2 separate regions of the Homo sapiens genome follow, and region 1 is linked to region 2. Evidence: fine-mapped expression QTL. A gene starts in region 2. The other region holds a variant in brackets. All regions are shown on one strand. Distances are from middle to middle.

Evidence for each region.
Region 1: its variant is fine-mapped to the expression of ZFP91 in aorta (GTEx, PIP 0.96).

Annotation. Positions count from the first base shown.
Region 1 is chr11:58,377,690-58,388,420 of GRCh38, forward strand. It overlaps the pseudogene OR5B15P. Among named protein-coding and RNA genes, the nearest start is that of OR5B3, 24 kb to the right of the region's middle. The variant TA/T (reference allele first, on the strand shown) is at 5,453.
Region 2 is chr11:58,573,926-58,584,656 of GRCh38, forward strand. It overlaps ZFP91 (ZFP91 zinc finger protein, atypical E3 ubiquitin ligase), which reads left to right and starts at 5,138. Exons shown (of 11, transcript NM_053023.5): 1 at 5,138-5,697. The coding sequence starts at 5,357. It overlaps LPXN (leupaxin), which reads right to left and starts at 1,931. Exons shown (of 9, transcript NM_004811.3): 1 at 1,835-1,931. The coding sequence starts at 1,847. It overlaps ZFP91-CNTF (ZFP91-CNTF readthrough (NMD candidate)), which reads left to right and starts at 5,189. Exons shown (of 13, transcript NR_024091.1): 1 at 5,189-5,697. RefSeq lists enhancers at 1,804-1,863, 1,874-1,923, 3,612-3,661, 3,892-3,971, 3,992-4,511 and 3 more and a silencer at 5,192-5,611.

The sequences.
Region 1 (10,731 bases), 200 kb before region 2:
TATGCAAATGAAAGCCAAAAGTAAGTAGGAGTAGCTATAATTATATTTAATGAAACAGATGTTAAGTCAAAAAATATAAAAAGAGACAAATAAGATCATTATATAAGCATAAAAAGATAAATTCAACAAAATGATTTAAATTATAAATGTATATGCACTCAACACCAGAGCACCAGATGTATAAAGCAAATATTATTAGGTTTAAAGGGAGAGATAGACTCCAATACAATAATATTTGGGGATTTCAACACCCACTCTAGGCATAGGACAGATCATATAGGAAGAAAATCAACAAATAAATATAAGATTTAAACTGCACTATAGACCAAGTAGACTTATCAGACAAACACTTCATCCAGTGGCTGAAGAATAAACATTTATCAGCTCATGGAACATTCTCCAGGATTGGTCATATGTTAGGCCACACAACAAGCTTAAACAAATATTTTAAAATTAAAATTATAGCAAATATCTTTTCTCTCCACAATAGAATAAAACTAGAAATCAATAATACTAGGAACTTTCAGAAAATGTACAAATGCATGTAAATTAAACAATGTGCTCCTGAATGACCATGGGTCAATAAATAAGAAGAAAAATTTAATATTTCTTTAAAAACATAGCAAAATTATGGGATACAGAAGAATCAATATTAACAGGAAAATTTATAACAATAACAATAAACACCTACATTTAAAAAGTAGAATTTTTTCATATAAACAATCTAACAATATACCTTAAGGGAATAGAAGAGTAAGAACAAATTAAATGCCGGATTAGCAGAAGAAAAGAGATCACAAATATCTGAGCAGAAATACAATTGAGACCAAAAAATAATTAAAAAGATCAACAAAACAAAATGTTGGCTTTAAAAATTTGAGCAAAATTGACAAACCTTTAGCTAGACTAACCAAGAAAAAAAAGAGAGAGAAGACCCAAGTAAATAAAATTAGAAACTAAAAGGAGACATTACAACATATACCCCAGAAATACAGAGAACTACTAGAGGTATTATGAACAACTATAGGCCAAGAAATTGGAAAATGTAGAATAAGTGGATCAATTCCTGGACACACACAATCTGCCAAGATTGAACCACCAAGAAATAGGAAAACTGGACGGACCAATAGTGAGTAAAAAGATTAAATCTGTAATTAAAGTTTTCTAGAGAAAAGAAAGTCTCCAAAGGAAAGCCCAGGACTAGATGTCTTCACTGCAAATATGCTCATTGCTATGCTATTTACAATAGCAAAGACATGGAATCAACCCAGATGACAATCAATAGTAGACTGAATAAAGAAAATGTGGTAAATATACACTGTGGAATGCTACACAGCCATCAAAAAGAATAAAATCATGTCCTTTGCAACGACATGGATGGAGCTGGAGGACATAATCTGAAACAAATTAATGCAGGAACAGAAAACCAAATACCACATGTTCTCACTTATAAGGGGGAGCTAAGCATTGATAACATATGGACATAAATATAAAAACAATAGACATTGTGGACTACTAGAGGATGGGGGACAGGTTAAAAAACTACTTATTGGGTACTATGTTCACTACCTGGGTGACAGGGATCCACACTCCAGACCTCAGCATCATGAAATATACCCATGTAAGAAATTTGCATGTGTACCCCCTGTATCTAAAATGAAAGTTGAAATTAAAAAATGAAGAAGAACTAATACTAATTCTTCTCAAACTATTTCAAAAAATTAAAGTAGAGGAAAATCTTCCAAACTCATTCAATGAGGCTGTATTACCCTCTTATCAAAACCAGGCAACGACACAACAAAAAAGAAAACTACAGACCAATATCCCTGATGAACACAGATGCAAAAATTCTCCACAAAATGCTAGAAAACAAAATCCAACGGCAAATCAAAAAGATTATACACCATGATCAAGTGGAATTTATTCCAGGGGTGCAAGGATAGTTCAATATACGCAAATCAATAAACATGCTATATCACATCAACAGAATAAAGAGCAAAAACCATGTGATAATTGGAACAGATGTAGAAAAAGCATTGATAAAATTTAACTTCCCTTCATGATAAAACTATCTTCAAATTAAGCATGAAGAAATGTATCCCAACACAATAAAAGCCATATATAACAAACCCACAGCTGACATCATACTGGATGGAGAAAGGCTAAAAGCTTTTCCTCTAAGAACTGAAAGAAGTGAAGGATACCCATTTAACCACTCCTATTAAACATATTACTGGAAGTTCTAGCCAGAGCTGTTAGGCAAGAGAAAGAAATAAAGGGCATCTAAATTGGAAAGAAGGATGTCCCTGTTTGCAGCCACATAATCCTATACCTAAAGACTCCACCATAAAAAACCTGGAAATGATAAATGAATTTGATGAAGTTGCTAGATAAGAAAATCAACATATAACAATCAGTGTTTTCTACACATTCACAACAGACTAGCTGAAAAAGAGGTAAACAAAGTAATTTTATTTATAATAACTACCAAAAAACCTACAAATAAATTTAACCATGGAGGTGAAAAATTTCTACAAGAAAAACCATAAAACATTGATGAAAAAAATTGAAAAGGACACAAATAAATGGAAAGATATCCCATGTTCAGTGATTGTAAGAATTAGTCTTGTTAAAATGGCCATACTGTCCAAGGCACTATACAGATTTAATGAAATGCCTATTAAAATTTTAATGTTTTTTTCACAGAATAGAAAAAAACAATCCAAAAAACCATATGAAACCACAAAAGACCCTAAATAGTGAAAGAAGTTCTAAACAAAAAGCACAAAGCTAGAGGCATCACAGGATGTGGCATCAAAATATACTACAAAGCTATAGTAACCAAAATGGCATGGTACTGGCATAAAAGTAGACACATATACTAATGTAACAGAATAAACAACATGTAAATACATTCAGGATTTTATAGCCAACTAATGGTCAATAAAGACACCAAGAACACTCACTGGGGGAAAGGATAGTCTCTTTAATAAATGGTCCTGGGAAAATTAGATATCCATATGTAAAAAAAATTGGACATCTATCTTTCATCACATATAAAAATCATCTCAAAATTGATTAATTACTTAAATGTGAGACTCAAAACTCTGAAACTACTAGGAGAAAACTTGGAAGAAATGCCTCAGGATATTGACCTTGGCAAAGATCGTATAGTGAAAACCTCAAAAGCACAGGCAACAAAAGCAAAAATAGACAAATGGGATTATAGCAAACTAAATATTTCTATACAGCAGAGGAAACAATGAATAGAGTAGAAAGACACCATGAAGAATGGGTGAAAATATTTGCAAACTATTCATTCAATGAGAGGGTAATATCTAGAATATACAACAAACTCAAGAGCCAAAAAACAAATAACCCAATATAAAAAATGGGCAAAAAATCTGAATAGATATTTATTAAAAAGAGACATACAAATGGTCAACACATATATTTTAAAATGTTCAGCATCATGAATCATCAGAAAAATGCAAATCAAAACCACAATGAGATACCATCTTGCCCCAGTTATAATAGCTATTATCAGAAAGATAAAACACAAAAATTATGAGGATATGAAGAAAGGGAAACTCTTACACACTGATGATGGGAATGTAAATTAGTATAGCCATTGTGAAAACAGTATGGAGGTTCTTAAAAAAAAAAACTAAAAATACCACTGCCATATGATCCAGCAGTTTCACCATTGGGTATATACCCAAAGGAAAGGAGATTGGTATGTCTAAAAATATCTGTAACCCCATGTTTATTACAATGTTATTCTTAATGGTCAAGATTTAATATCAACTCAAATGTCTATCAACAGAAGACTGAATTTAAAAATGTGATGCATATACACGATGGAATACTATGCAGCCATAAAAGAACAAAATTCTGTCATTTGCCTCAACAAATGGAGGAGTCTGAAGGATGTTAAGTGAAATATGCCAGGTACAGAAAGGTAAGTACTGCATGTTCTCATTCATATGTGGAATCTAAAATTGTTTATCTCATAGAATTAGATAATTAATTAGTGACTCTTAGAGGCTGGGAAGGCTAGGGAGGAAGGAGGATAAGGAAAGGTTGGTTAACACACAAAATTACAGCTAGGTAGGAGAAAAAAGTTCTAGTGTTCTATAGCACTGTGGGGTGGCTATAGTTAATAAGGATTTATTGTACATATTCAAAGAGCTAGAAGAAATGATATTTGAATGTTCCCAACACAAAGAAATGATAAATGTTTCAGATGTTGGATTTGCTAATTACTTTGATATGATCACTGCACATTGCATAAATGCATCAGAATACACTGTATCCATAAAAATGTACGATTGTTATGTTTCAACTAAAATACTAATAAAAAGAAAGGGACACATTAAGGCTCAAAAATAATAAAAATTAAAGATTAAAATCATACTATTAAAAATATATCAAGGGAATAAAGTAGTATGTTCTTTCCAGGGGCAATAGAGTAAATATTTACAAGTGGGGCTCTGTCACATATGCTGTGCAACCTTAGGCAAGTGTCTTAGATTTTTTGTGTCTCAAATACCTCATCCATAAAATGGAGATTTAAAAACTGTATCTTGTATGATTGTCAAGAGAATCAAATGATTCACTGTGTGTGAAGTGTTTTAAATAGGGTCTTCATTAAGGTGAGATATTGCTGTTATGTTTTCAAAAATAGATAAATTGTATTTGAAAATTACAAACTTTTGGGCATCAAAGTACATTATCAAAAAGTGAAAAGGAAATCTACAGAATTAGAAAAACATTTGCAAATTATATAAATACATAAAAAATCCTCAATATCATTATTTATCAGGAGAAATTTAAATAAAAACTACCAGGAGATACTATTTTATAATCCATTAGGATGGCTATTGAAAAAGAAATGGAAACTAACAAATATTGGCATGGATGTAGAGAAATTGGAGCCCTTATAAATTGCTGGTGGAAATGTAAAATTGTAGAGCTGATATGAAAAACAATTTGTTAGTCTTCAAAAGTTAAACTCAAATTACCATATGCATGAGCCATCCTACTTCCTGTTATCTACTTAAAGAACAAAAACAGTTCTTCAAATAATGCTTTCCCACAAATATCCATAGCATCATTAGTAAAATATTAACAATTGCTCAAAGGTGAAAACACCCCAATGTTCATCAACTGAGAATGGAAGAACAAAATGTAGTACATATGTATGATTAAATATTACTCAGCTGTAAAAATAAAATATTAATACATGTTACAATATGAATGAGCCTTGAAAACATTCTGTAAAGTAAAATAAATCATACATAAAAGGTCACATATTATGAGATTACATTTATGTGATCTATACAGAATTGGTAAATCCATAGAGATTGAAATAAGATTATTGGTCCCCAGGGTCAGGGGGCTGAGGGAATGAGGGACTACTGCTTAATGAGTATGGAATCTTCTTTGTGAG[TA/T]AAAAAAACTTTTGAAATTAGATATATGTGATGGTTTCACAACTTTATGAATGTACTAAATATCAATGAATTATATACTTTTAAATAATCAATTTTATTTTATGGACATTTCATATAAATTAAAAAGGTGGAGTCAGGGAAAAATTGCATAGGCATAAAATGGAGAAAAGAACCTGACTGCGAAGGGAGAGATCAGACTGATGCAGACAAAAGTCAAGGAATGCTGGCAGCCACCTGAAGATGAAATATGCATGGAACTGATTATTTCCTAGAGATTCTGGAGACTGATACCTTGGTTTCATTCTAGTGAAACTGATTTTGGACATCTGACCTCCAAAACTGTAAGAAAATAAAATGTGTTGTTTTACTTCCCTAAGCATGTGGTAATTTGTCACAACCAAAGGGAACTAATACAAAATCTTTGTTGTGTTAAACCATTGGGTTTTCACTTAATGTGTTACTGCAGTAAAATCTAGCATCTTTTATTACCTATCTTCTTGTTTTCTACAAACAGATGATGAGTTTTTCCTATTAGTTCTCCTTATTATTCATTTACTCATTCACTAAAATCTTTTACTGAGCCCCAACTCTGTTCCAGGCATGAATCTTTGTTAGTGACCAAGTCAGAAATTGTTCCTGTATGCATCAAGCTTTTATTCTTGTTGAAAAACAAATTTAAGTAAACACACACAAATAGATAACTTTGTATTGTGATCAATATTATGAAGGAACAGATAATAGAGATAAAATTGGATAGGCCTTTTTAACATTTAATATGTAAATTTGTTCCTTCACTGAGTTGCCATTTTATTAGACACTCTTGAGTCCTTCCATGTAATCAACATCAGATCAGACTAATATCTGAGAATAATGACTGAGTAGTGCAGCTACATTTATAAAAATGAATCTATATAATTAATAAGTGTTTCAATAGTTCTATGGAGAAGGGTGACAAATTAGGTGATGAAATGACATAAGAATAAGAAAAGGAATAGAGAGAAGTAATTACTAACATATTTTGAACAGCTATTCTGTTTCAGGCACTGTGCTGTGTTCTCACTCATTCAGTACCCATTCAAAATAATTCTATGAGTAGGTGGTATTTTCACAAGTAGAATCTCAGAACATTTAATTAACTTGACACTTGTCACAAAGCTTTGTTGAAATGGAATTCATATGCAGCTTTATTCTGTGTTTCAAATCTGTGTACTTTTATTTGTGCTTGTCATTTTAGTCATGACTTGGAGAATGGATAAGGATTTAAAAATAAACAATTGTGGAATTAAATTGTGATGGAGAAATTTGACACTTTTTCCGTTATATGCTGTCCAGCCCCATTACCTACAAACAGTATCCAGATTGTATTATGAAAGTCTGTCTGTATTAGTTAGGATAAATAACGCTAGCTGCCATACAAGTAAACTCGGAAATTACAGTGGCATGATCATAGAAGATTTTCTTGCCCACAGGTTATTCAATTAATTGTTCTATAGGAATTCACACAGAGATTCAATGACCCAGGTCTTTTCACTAAGTGATTCCATTATCCCCCGTAGTCTGAATTTTGTCTCTCCAGATGGTGACAAAGAGAGCATACAGAGGACTACATGAAGAGTATCATGGGCCAGAGTTGAAATGGCATATATGACTTCACAAATTGGATTGTCAAAAATACAATCACATAGCCACAAAGTACTGCATAAAGGCTGAGAAACAGCCTAGGTATGAGTACAGTAAAAATAAAATAGTTTGGAAAACAACTACCAGTCTTTTCCATTGTAATACTTATGATCATCCAATATCCACTTTATACTTCTTCCCACAGAAAGAACATATTATCTACCTCCCCCAAAGAGACCACCTAAATCCCAACTAGTCACCATACAAGCTCAACCTCAGGTTAAATGGTCTTCTCCACATAATCAGGATGTGGCTCCTTGTGGTTCAGCAATTTATGAACCAAAAAGAAAATTTAGCTCCTTCTACATTCACATCCAATACATAAAGTCATACCAGAGTAAAGATAATTAGCAAACACATACACAGACACACACACACACACACACACACACACACACACAGAAAAAAGTCATCCCCATGTATACAAGACAGTAATGGGAGGCACACTGGTTGGTTTTAAAATCTTACAGAATTGGCATTATGAAAGTCCCTCACCCAAGTAATGATATATATTTTTTTATGAGACCCTGATTTTTTTCTCTGGGGAAAACTCCATTTTCCATTGTTTTCCTTGGCTGCTGGTGTAATCTCTTCAGCATTTCTCTTCTTATCCATTATTCTTCATTACCATTTCTGAAGTGTGTTGAACACAAAATCCTGTCTAGCACAAAATAAAGGCAATTTATTAATAAACTTGCAGCAAGGAAACCATCTTCTATTATTTTTACTTCAGCAGGATTGCAAGTGTGTTAGAAGGGACAGTAAGCTCATTGAGTAAAATGGAATAAATACTGAACCAGTGAATCATTGGCAACCATCTTATTAAGATAAGACTTTTGGAAGGGGTAGAAACAATAATTGGTCTTCAGGTACATTTGTCAGTCCTTAGTTGGCTACAAGGTGAAAAGCAAATGGTTTGGAGAATTTCTTTTTTTTAATTTTTTATTAATTTTAATTTTTTATTTTATTTTATTATTATTATACTTTAAGTTTTAGGGTACGTGTGCACAATGTGCAGGTTTGTTACATATGTATACATGTGCCATGTTGGTGTGCTGCACCCATTAACTCGTCATTTAGCATTACGTATATCTCCTAATGCTCTCCCTCCCCCTTCCCCCAACCCCACAACAGGCCCCAGAGTGTGATGTTCCCCTTCCTGTGTCCATGTGTTCTCATTGTTCAATTCCCACCTATGAGTGAGAGCATGTAGTGTTTGGTTTTTTGTCCTTGCGATAGTTTACTGAGAATGATGATTTCCAATTTCATCCATGTCCCTACAAAGGACATGATCTCATCATTTTTTATGGCTGCATAGTATTCCATGGTGTATATGTGCCACATTTTCTTAATCCAGTCTATCATTGTTGGACATGTGGGTTGGTTCCAAGTCTTTGCTATTGTGAATAGTGCCGCAATAAACATACGTGTACATGTGTCTTTATAGCAGCATGATTTATAGTCCTTTGGGTATATACCCAGTAATGGGATGGCTGGGTCAAATGGTATTTCAAGTTCTAGATCCCTGAGGAATCGCCACACTGACTTCCACAATGGTTGAGCAAGTTTACAGTCCCACCAACAGTGTAAAAGTGTTCCTACTTCTCCACATCCTCTCCAGCACCTGTTGTTTCCTGACTTTTTAATGATTGCCATTCTAACTGGTGTGAGATGGTATCTCATTGTGGTTTTGATTTGCATTTCTCTGATGGCCAGTGATGGTGAGCATTTTTTCATGTGTTTTTTGGCTGCATAAATGTCTTCTTTTGAGAAGTGTCTGTTCATATCCTTCACCCACTTTTTGATGGGGTTGTTTGTTTTTTTCTTGTAAATTTGTTTAAAATTTTTTTTTTAAAATTTTACTTTAAGTTTTGGGATACATGTGCAGAACACACAGGTTTGTTACAGAGGTATATGTGTGCCATACAAGAATTTTAAATTCAAGCCTCATAGCTTTGTTACAGTAAAATAACTAGATTAGGTGACCACTCATAGGGAATTTCCATTCAAGTCGAAGATATGATAAACAGGTGAACAAATAATACCGGAGTTTAATGTTGATAATGATTTTGAAGAATGAAGTAGGCTGAGGAAAGAAGGTCCATGGGAGGGGAGAGGCTATATTATGAAGTAGTTCAGGAAAGGCATGATCTGCCTGGGTGGGTTAACATTTAAGCAACAATATTAAATGAGTATGGAAATTTTCTGAGCAGAGGAAACAGCAAATAAAGAGCTCCTAAGACAAGAGCATGCCTAGAGATGTGGGCCCAACCAAAGCAACGATGGTGGCACAACAATTTCAAAACATTTACTGCCAAAAAAGAGAATAGCATTATTATTAATATCAATGCTTTTTTAAAAAACAAAATGTGAAGTTGGTAGTCATATGGGTAAGGTAAAAGATGACAATATTTTCTCTGCTTTTATTCTAATTTGACTATCTTTTCAAGGTTGTCATGTGAATATGCTTTCTCTCACCAAATCACTACATAATGACTGAAACATTAATATTAAGATACTGTAATTATTTATATTTAGATAAAATGTGCCAATAAAAAACTATACTCTATTAAAACCAGTATCATATTTCTCTCTATTTCGCATGCTTAGAGCTATTTCTCAACTAAAGAAATTAATAATATAATAATATAATATAATACAGAAAGCTATTGCATAAGGTGGATCTAAGAGGGATAGAATGACTTTTTATGGATTTTACATTATTAAAAGACTAAACCCAGAAAATATTTTGTTTCCTCAACAAACAGTCTTGAATGCACTCTTGACCTCGTTGTTTCTCAGGCTATAAACCACAGGGATTAGCATGGGGATAACCATAATATGAAACACAGATACAATTTTTTCTGTGTTCATGAAATGATAGAACTTGGCTGCACATATGTGATGAGGACAGTCTCATAAAATAAAGGAACTGCAGTGAGGTGAGAACCATAGGTAGATAAAACCTTCTTGTATACTTAAAGAGAGCATCTTTAAAATGGTGACAAATACAAATACAAACAAGCAGGAAATCAAGATAACTAGGAGGGTAAAAAATATAGCTTGAAGTAGGAACAAGGATCAACTCATTAATATGTTTATTAGAGCAAGTCAGAGTCATGACTGCCAGAATATCACAGAAAAAGTGATGGATCTCATTGGACATAAAATGTCTCCAATGTCAACAGCAGCAGTCAGTAAACCTAAGACATGCATGTATGGCCAGAGAAGCACACACATTTGTTGTCATGGTGGTGGTGTAATGTAGGGGTTTACACATTACTCTGTAGCAATCATAGGCCACTGAAGTCAAGAAGTAACTTTCCACAGTAGCAAAGACTGCAAAAAAGAACATCTGAGCAGCACATACATTGTAGGAGATGACCTTGTGAGCTATCAGCAACCCAGCCATCATCTTTGGAGTGACAGTTTCTGAGTAGCAAAAGTCCACCAGAGACAGGTTACTGAGGAAAAAGTACATGGAAGTGTGGAGACGAGAGTCCAGCAGGATCAGCAGCATCATCCCCAGGTTCCCACTCAGAGTGAAGAGGTAGATGAAGTTAAATAAGACAAAGAGGTGGACCTGTAGTTCTGGGGC
Region 2 (10,731 bases):
AATGAGGGTTTAGGTAAAACCTTCTGGGTGTATACAAGCTGCTAGCCTCTGAGGCACCACTGCAGACAGGAAATATTTGCTCACTTGAGCCAACCTGTCCTCGATGCCATTTCTCTGCCAGCAGGAAGAAAGATCCACACCAAGTCTCAAGGGTAGTTACTGGGCTGATGACAATTTGAAGAAACTGTTGAAGTGTAGCCATCAACAGCCTGTGGAGACGTAGCCAACTGGATAATCTGCACAAATATTAGCTTCCAGGCTACTTGGTACTTTCTGTATTTCCAGACAAGATTTACCTAACATTTAGCCTGCTCAGGAGATGCAAAACAATATAAGTTTCTGTTAAATCTGGGTTACTTCATTGGACAGACACCAGAACCAATAAACTTCTAAAATAGGAGAGCACCTTGTTGCTTAGTTTTGGTGTCAGGTGTTCCCGACAGTGACATTGAAAAAGTTATTTTGTTTTTCTTAGTTTTCTCATCTGAAAAAGAAGTGGATAACACCTATTTCAGAGGGTTGCTGCAGACACTAAAATGATTAACATATGTAAAAATGTCTAGTTTTTGCTTGATTTACTAAATAAGTATTAGTTTCCTTTTGAATTATTTGCCATGAAAGCCTTTCGGTGTCCCCTCCATCCCCCCCAAAAAAAAGAAAGAGAAAAAGAAAAAAGGCCCTAGCACTACTAGAACTCAAGCAGAAATTCACATTCTCCCAGCACTCACGTAGGATAAGAAATAGAATTCTACCCCAAGTCCAAAAAAGAGTCTGGCCCAATATCAAAATAGACTTTACCTCCAAAGCAGTTTGATATTTATTAAACACTACCTTTTTCTCTTCATTAACATCTCTTGCCTCCTGGTAATTTGCCCTTTACTTTTCCTCTGTTTCTCCAGCTTTGAAATCACACGCCATTTTTTTTAAGACAATGTAACAATGTGCAAGATATTTTTTGTTGTTGTTTTTTGCACTTTTGACATACCCTATCCCCAAACACACCCCAAACCAGGACACTGTGGAATTAATACAGTTTGGAAATTGGGTATAGTTTAGTGACTCAGTGTTAGTTAAGATGCTGGCAACAGATGTTGGCAAAGGCTATGGAATGAGTCCCAAGAATGACAAACCTTACATTACTCCAAAGGTTTGAAATCCAGGATTTCTCTGGTTAATATGGTTAATAGTTCCACTGCTGGTTTTAATTGTCTTAGAGTGGAAGGAGGTGTCATATTTTCAGGCCCTAGTAATCTCTTCCTTCAGAATTCTTCTGAATAAAAAGCTTAGCAACAAAATCACTAGAGTTAGAGTGCTATGCCTTCTTGATTTAATACTAAAACATGGAACAAATGAAACCACTCTGGCCTTTTTCCAACCTCTACAGATCCCTCATTCTTATACTTCTAGTCCGTCTTTTCTTCCTCATAACACCCCAATTCCCTTTTTGCTCTTTCTTTTCCTCCTCAAATCATATCTCTGCATTGTCTCGCTATGTGGCCACCCTTGATCTCCAGTGACCTCCAAAGGGCAAAACGCCCATAACAAGACAACAACTGCAGTAACAATCCAGTCCAAAAGTATTTGCCAAGAGTTTATTCCGCGGTTAGCACCAAACTCTCCATCTATTTTGCCACTGCAAACAGTGAACCCATAGTTCCCCAAAACAATCATAGTTCCTCATGCTTCACTCTTGGCAGGGCTGAGGACAGGAAAGAAGTGAAAATAAAATCTTCCATTACTACCCTCAGTCTAGCCAGAAGTATACCCCACCACACAAGGAGATGGCAGCCAAGTCTTCACTCCCTCAGAGTTTCTCCTCAGGCTCCTCACTCACCTAACTCTTCCATTGTCCTACATCCAAGATGCTCTTGTCTCACAGGCCGTGAGGAACAGCTTTGGCATGTGCTGAAGAAGAGGACCGCAAAGGAACTGGATGAGACAGCATAAGGCAGCCTCTATAAACCTTTTTGGTTCCTGTATTTGCTTAGCACTTCCTCTCTTTTGATTTGGTGAGCTTTTTTTTTTTTTTCATAGGTTACACAGTTTTAAAAATGTGACTGACATAGAAAGGTAGATAGTAAGATTTGCATTATGGCAGTGCATTGGCCAGGGTGATAAAGATTCAAAATTAATTTTGCAAAATTTGAGGACCTACTCTGTGCCAGGATTCATCTTGGATTCATGGGAATGGCAGACTTATACTTGCGTTTTTTCCAAGTGTAGGTACCCCACTCTGAGCATCTTTCTTTTTTCTTTTTTTTTTTTCTGTGAAGCTGGGAGACACAGAGGCATAGTCTCCTTCTTAAAATTTGCATCAGAGTTGACCAGCATCCATTTCATTTTGTTGTCTTATTTATTCAGAAATTATGGTTATCTGCTTTCCTGCATGGAACGTAAATCCTTAAAAGTAGGGCAGAAGTGGATTCATGCTTGGATTCTCAGGGCCTGGTTTACTCAGTGGTCCCAAAAGCAAACATCTATAGGGTGGTCACAAAGAAGGAAGCCAGGTTTGACACCAGATGTTAAACTGTGTGCATCTCAATTAAGCATAATCCCTGCCTAGATACACTGCCTTATAGCAATTTCTTTGGAAAGTAACACTGAGGTTAACTCTTCACCTTTTTTACCACTGTGATTTATTCACCTTGAATTAAACATTTACAAAAGGCCTACTATAAAAAAGCAATACGTAAGGAACTATAATTATGGCCCTGTGAAATAGATTTTTTCCCCCTTTTTACCAATGGTGAAATAGGTTCATGTAATAGCAACTTGCTAAGATAATTAATTGGTAGCTTTGCTACTTACTATAATTGCAAAGTCTGGGATCTTTCCTCTACAACACCGTAGCCTTCTTTACTTTTTTTAAGACAAGCTCTCTGTCACCCAGGCTGGCGTGCAAAGGTACTATCATAGTTCAGTGTAACCTCCAACTCGAACTCCTGAACTCAAGCGATTTGCCCTTCTCAGCTTCTGGAGTAGCTGGGACCAGAGGTGCATCCCATCACGCCACCAGGTTAGCTTAAAAGCTTTATTTTTATTTTTTATGTAGAGGGTGGTCTCCCTATGTTGCCCAGGCTGGTCTGGAAGTTCTGGGCTCAAGGGATCCTCCCACTTTGGCATCCAAAAGCGCTGGGATTCCGGGGGTGAGCTACCACATCCAGCCCACAGTGGCTTTTTTTTTTTAGGGAATAATTCATTCTCCATTCCACTGTCTGTACATTTTTTTTTGAAAGGAGATTCCTCCTCTGTATTACTTTGAGCATCCATTGGATGTCAGCACTGTTCCTTCCAAAAGTCTGCTCACTACAAACTCAATCTTAAAAAATTTCCATTGACACTATGCCAATCGATTATTACAACTGAAAATGACATTAGCCCTATGAAAATGGAAAATACTCAGTAGAGAATATAAAACATTTGTCTAATATGAAGTGGTATCTGAGTCAAAGTACTGGAAGGAAAAATGTACTTCAGCACTTGTCTACAGTTTAACTGAATGATTAATGTGAAATTTAAAATTGGATCCCCAGATCTTGTTTCCAGCTTCTTTCTTTTGGGACTTTTAGCCCTGGATGCCTTATTTTCCAGGGGTAAAGGATGTTCTTGCAAATCGTTCCTTGATTGTAATGGATGAAAAGAAAAAAGAAATGGGAGAGGCCCACTGCATCACCAACTGCAACGGAAATTCCCTTTGATGAATCAGGAAGACAAATTAATGTCATACGCTAGCGTGCAGAAAAGTAACCTCTGATAAAGTTGCTATTGTATAAACCGCAGAAGCAGATGGCTTCCGGCCGCAGAGCTTAAGAGACCCTTCAGCTTCTCGGTGTAGGTCACCAGTCATGTCACGCTCACAACCCTTTCGCCTCCCTCTAGGTCAGGCACCGCATCCAAGTTAAGCAACCGACGCCGGCTCCTTGGTGTCCCAACAAGGTCTAGTAGAAAAGCAACTTTATAATTCGTTTCACAGATTTGATTAAGAGCCAACTGAGTAGTGGGCCTTGTGCTAGGGCTCCGAGGGCCCAAGGACCCCATGGAACCAGATTTAGTCGCTGACCTCTAGGAGCTCACAGGTGAGTGACTCACACACCGGAAGACGAGATCAATAATGTAGACATGAACGCTGGCTAGCCAGTCCCAGAGGAGGTGTCATCTGACCAAACCAAGGCAAGTCTGGGCAGTTACGCAGACACCCCGAGAAAGGTACGCCAACGCCCAGATAAAAAGTAAGAAAAAGTAGGAAAAACCCTCCCATCAGACCAGCAATTGGCTCGACGCTTGAGCCCGGATGTACGGCACGCGTCGCGACCTAACCCGGAAACACTGCCTCCCGAAAAAAAGGTAAACTCTAGACTGCGGAAAGTAAACTACCTTTCCCGTCGTGACTCAGTTAGAACCTCCCGGCATCCTCTCCACCTCTGGTTTCCCATCTATTTTTCCTAAAGCCTAGGCGAAATAAGACTTCATCTCCCAGAATGCCCTTGGTTAAGTTAACGGTGCGCATGCGCCAAGAGGCGGGCCCTCGTTGCCCCCACAACCCCGCCTCCGTTTTGCCGCCGCCATTTTTTCAGAGACTTTCATCCGGCAACCGACGGGGCTTTTTTTCTTAAAGGAGAAGCGACAGCTCAAAATACTACCCCCTTCTCCGCGCAAGATCTGGCGGCGCTGGGGACAGAAAGGCCAAAGACAGGAAAGTGGGGTAGGGTGGAGGCGGAAGAACGCCCAGGCTACTTCTGCGGCCTAAAGAAGAATAGAAAGAGCCCTTGTGGTATCAGTGGCTCCTCAGGGAGGCAGGTGCGCGCGCAGCCAGTCTAGGGTTTGCGTGAGGCGGGGAAAGAGGTGCGATTTCTTCTCACCCGCCTCCCTCGCGAGACCTGCCCCTCGCACTGCCCCTAGCGCGCGTTGAAGTCTGGAGGGGGGAAAAAGGTCACTTTGGGATTGTCGCGAGACACAGCCGTTTAACGGTGAGAACGGGTGCGCGGGGAAGGAAACCTCGCGCGCTCCCCTTTTAGCCGTTTCCTGATTGGCTGAAGGAAGGGGTGGGGGAGGGAACCTGGGGCGCCGCTGCGTGTAAGACTGCGAGGGGCGGGGTGAGGAGGCTTGTCCTCTTTTCCGATTGGCCCGCTGAGCGTCTGTGGCGCGCGCGCGCGCGCCGCCAGCGGTAGCGGACCTTGAGTGGCAGGGGGTGGGGGGGGCGCCCTCGGAGCCGGGCGGAGGGGAGGGGGGAAAGAGGAGCGCAGGGTGAGAGTGAGCCGCAGGCTTCGGGAGGCGAGGGGGCGGGGGGAGCAGCGCCGAGGCCGCCGCCTCCGCCTCCGCCGCCTAGGACTAGGGGGTGGGGGACGGACAAGCCCCGATGCCGGGGGAGACGGAAGAGCCGAGACCCCCGGAGCAGCAGGACCAGGAAGGGGGAGAGGCGGCCAAGGCGGCTCCGGAGGAGCCCCAACAACGGCCCCCTGAGGCGGTCGCGGCGGCGCCTGCAGGGACCACTAGCAGCCGCGTGCTGAGGGGAGGTCGGGACCGAGGCCGGGCCGCTGCGGCCGCCGCCGCCGCAGCTGTGTCCCGCCGGAGGAAGGCCGAGTATCCCCGCCGGCGGAGGAGCAGCCCCAGCGCCAGGCCTCCCGACGTCCCCGGGCAGCAGCCCCAGGCCGCGAAGTCCCCGTCTCCAGTTCAGGGCAAGAAGAGTCCGCGACTCCTGTGAGTAACAGTCTTTCAGGCGGTGGGAAAGACCCCCCTCTGTCCGTACGCAACCCTCTCGGCTCCCGTAGCGCCTACTCCACGTGACATCCTGCCTGGTCTGCCCCCTGCCGGCTCCGCACGCCAGATGTCACACCGTTTCCCCGGGAGCCTTCGTGCCTCCTCTCTGCGCCACCCTCATCTCGCTCCTGTACCTTCGCTTGTCGGGCCGTTTCCCCACTCCCCGAAATCATCTTTTGATACACCCCTGCACTCGCTAGTGATCCACCTCCTCCCTGACACCCGCAGGCTCATCCCTCTTTCTGGCATCCGCACCCCCTTTGTCACCCTATCCCTTTCCTTTAGGCGGCTCTCCAGTATTACATCACATGCCCTTTAGGGAATACACAGCCCGATCATAGCCTTCAAAAATGATTCCCCCCCGCCTTCGCGTTAGCTCAAGAGCCAGATGTACTAGTGTGTTTATGTAGCTTTTTTTTTTTTTCACTTTTCTAAATTTTTCGCAACCCTTCTCATTCTTTTGAGAAATTTGCCACTTATTATGGTCAGGTTAAAAGCCCACTGCTACGATTTTAAGTATGGAGTCTTTCATATAAAATTATATGAGCATTCTTTAATGTTTGTTTTTACTAAGTAGCATATGTTTTATCTTTGTGTTTCGTGTTTTTAAATGTAGGAACTTCATCCTTGAAATTAGAATCATCTGAGAGGAATTCCTTTATTACCTAGACGTAATAGAGGAAACATGAACAGGTGGCCAGGAGCATTGTCTTAAATTGTTCGTTAAAATAATACTCATGTTAAGAATACTGAAGCACACAAGTTTGTAAATTCTAGAAATTAATCACATTGACTATTCAATTCATGACTGAAAACATCATTAGTGACCTTTGATTTTTGAGTGAAAACAGATTAGTAAAAACAGAGAAAATTGAAGTGAGGGGGAGTCAGTTTTAAGTGTTCCCTTTCTTCCAGTAGAGATAGTGGCAAGGTTTGACTTACACCAGACCTAATAGATTTAAAACTTGAAACAGACTTGGTCCAAAATTAAGAGTTAAGCCTGTGTCTTGGCATGCTTGCCTTAGAAGCCTCTCAGAAAGAGAAATAAAATTCAGAGGTAATCATATTGTGGTATTAGATATGCTTTCAAATTTTTGAATGTCAGCTAAGTTAACATAATTTAGAGAATTTGTTGTAAGAACTGCAGTTCTGTCGACAGCAAAAATCTGTACTTACAGATTCAGCTGCAATTAGACTTCTAATTGCTGTAGATGCATTTCATCTTACAAAAATTTTATAGTTCTATATTGTTTAATCTCATGAATTTGAAAAGATACATGTATATCATTGACCTCATTTGGATATGAATTCCGTGAGCAAATTCCTTAACCTACCCATGCCTTAGTTTCCTTACCTATAGAGGATAATCTCTGCAACGTGAGTTTGTGAGAATTAAATACAGTGTGTAAAGTGCTAGACACAATGCCTGTTGTAAATACTAAGTACAAGTTGCGTTTTTCAGTAATGGTGGGATGGTAGATCCTTGAGTGGTTTGTAGTGAGGTTTTTCATATAAATTATGCAAAATATGATTTTTTCACTCTTTAATATTACTATTCGTAGAGAGGGTAATACTTAAAATATTTTTAAAATTTCCTTTTATTCTCACCTACCCCTTGAAAATTAAATATACCTATATCTCAAGATAAGATAATTATGTCTAAAATGGTACCTGCTGTTTAATTTCTTTTTTTGGAGATGGAGTTTTTGCTCTGTTGCCCAGGCTGGAGCAGTGCCACGATGATCTCTGCACACTGCAACCTCCGCCTCCTGGCTTCAAGCAATTCTCCTGCCTCGTCATCCCAAGCAGCTGGCATTACAGGCGCCCGCCACCAATCCCAGCTAATTTTTGTAATTTTAGTAGAGGTGAGGTTTCACCATATTGGCCGGGTTGGTCTCCAACTCTTGACCTCAGGTGATCCACCCGCCTCAGCCTCCCAAAGTGCTGGGATTACAGGCGTGAGCCACTGCGCCCAGCCTGCTGTTTAATTTTTGAAGGAAAATAAATAATTTTTATCTAAAACAGTAATTTTACCTGCTGTCATGATTTATTTTTGCCCTAACTCTTGGCAACAAAGTACTAGTGACGCTTTAATTCCATATAACTGTTACTGTTGTATATGGATGAAGATGACTTAATTAAATTCCTTCCTTTTTTCTGCACAATGTTCCTTGTGGGGAGGAAGAAATAAGGCTGAATTCTTAGCGCCACCCGCCTCCCATCCAATATCATTAGAAAACAGTAGTGACAATGGCATTCTTCTTTCAGCCCCAAAATTATCTCTTGACTGTGTTTTTGATCAGGTTGTTAAACAAATTTTCGTCATAATAGAGTTTTTGTTACACATTTTTACCTTATTCCATAATCTGGAAATCAGAGGAATGCTAAAGCATTTTAGCTTGGCAAACTTGTTTCATCAGTATCTGGGCCTGGTACTATGCTGAACTAGGTGGTAGAAAGAAAAATGAGACATGGCCCTCATCTTCAAGGACCTTGGGGTGTAAGGCAAAGATGCATTAATTAGTGGAGATATGTCAAATGTGTGTATGGTATACAGATTTTCAGTCATAAAATACATTTTAAGACTTAATTTTTTCTACATAATTTAATCCTTTAAGATATTTCAAGAGGTTTTGAGTCCAAACCCTGGTCTGGTATCTTTGACTTTGAGTCATTTCTGTTTTCCAAATGACATTTTGAAAATTTTAAAAAGGAAGGTTTATTCTGTATTACTTACTTGTTCGCGCTAGTCCTTTTTCCATATCCCAGCATTTCCCTGTATACAATCTTAGTAATCAGCTGTTTAACCTACATTTGATTTTCTTAATTAAAGTGATAGTAAAGTATACCATAGTTTAAAAGGTCAAGAAATAGATAGATTTGGATTGGTTGAAACCTCTGTTCCCATTGGAAGGCAAAATAATAGAGTGGATAAAGCATTGGACTTTAGTCAGAAAGTTTTATGTTCCAGCTTTGTACTGTGCAGTAAGTGGCCTTGAGCAAGTCACTTAACCTCTTCATTTATAATTGCTTCATTTATAATTGATATTTTATGAATTTGCGAGATGACATATTTAGCTTACAGTTTTTATAATCTGATGTTTATAACAACTTCTTTTCACAATGAACTATTTAGGGGTTATTGGGAAGAGGAAATATTTGTGGATGAAGGGGAAATAAAAATTTTTCATTGTGCTCAAGAGAAGCACAGAGTTAAATGCTAGAATCATGATAAATTGAAGCATAGAAAGCTAGTAGGAAAAATAAACCAAATTTGAAGAAAGTTTATGTATCCATACTAAGAGTAAGACTGATCATTTGCTGTATGTTAGCCAGTAAATTACAGTTATTTCAAGTGCACGTTTATATACTGTCTTTAATTTTTGAAGTAAAATCTAGTAGCATTAGTATACTAGTTTTTGCCTATGATTTTTTTCTGATTCATCCATGCGTTCTGCTAGTAGGGAATGAAATTGTCAAATTAAGACTAGGTTAAAATGTATAAGGCTTTTTTTCATTCTTACATGTAATAGCCCTTCATTTATCCTGTGCATTTCAAAACTTAAAACTTTAGGGACAAATACTTTTTAAAAATTCTAACTTCGCTGTTGAGTAACCATATTAGCTAATACTGAGTATTTTTAGATGTCTTCCTTCAGGTTCAGATTAAGGAAAGTAGTTTTATTTTCTAGTATGTGAAATTCCATTTTTGGTATATTTTCTTGCTAAAATTAAAACAGTAATAAACCTTTAGGTGACCTTTCTTGCTGTTTCCCTTTTGAAGGTCATGGATAGTGAGGATGAAGAGGTGGTAATATTCTGAATTGAAAAAACTTACAGTTCTTTGGAGAAGCCTTCAGTTGTACAAGACTGAAATCCTGTGATCAGGATCTTAATCAGTATGATGATAGAAACATTGAACCAACTTTCAAGGTTTTTGGAAAAGTTTGTTATATAATTTTTCAAAAATTTAGCAATTATTTCTGCAGTTTTTATTTAAAGATGGGATGATTAGCAGTTATGGTGTGTTAATTGGGACATTGGTAATGTGATTTAAAATAAAATTATAATACCAGTCTTTTTTAAAAAAGTATGGAACAAACAGTGATAACTATTGTTTCTAAGTAGAATAGATTTTTGTATTACACTGTGGCTTCTGTATTTGTCTGGGTATTTATTTATAACATATTGTAACATAATAGAGTCTTTACTATATTAGGTTTACTTTTGGGAGGAGCAACAACAAAAAAACTTTGTACTGTTCAGAGATACTCTGTGGTATCTATATGATAAATGTTCAGGGCCTGTTGACTTTTGAATTTTAGTAGTAAGTATAGGAAGTTCATTATACTGTCCTCACCAGTTACGTATGAGAGAAATTTTTCTGAATGAAAAACCTGGGGATATGTCTGATTTTTGTTGTTTTGGGGGTTTTTAAAAAAATCTTCAGGCTATAACAATTTTTAAGCTCTTTACTGTTGCTTTTTAATTTGTAAAGGGCAAGTTACATTTACTTGTGAGGTCCACCTATTGTCTTTTTACAAGTAGATTTTGATTTGGTCTTAACAAACAATTTTAGGGTCTTTTTAACACTTCATTGAGTTTTTATTATGAAAATTGTTAAATATACACAAAATAGGGAAAATAGTATAATGAAACCCCAGTATTGATCACCTAGCTGAGATTTTGCCATGCTTGCTATGTCCATCCTCCCTGTTTTGGCAGAAGTATTTTGGAGCACATCCCAAACATCATTTCATCTCTAGTTAGTACATTTATATAAAATAAGAACATTTTCTTATATAATCACTTAATGTAACAAAATTAGTAATATTTTCTTTGTATCAATATCTTAGTTAAAAATAGGTGTTTTGAATGATATTCTAGCTCTGTGCTGTCAGTTATGTAGCCACATGTGGCTATTTAAATTTACATTAATCAAAATTAAAAATTCAGTTTCACAATTACATGAAC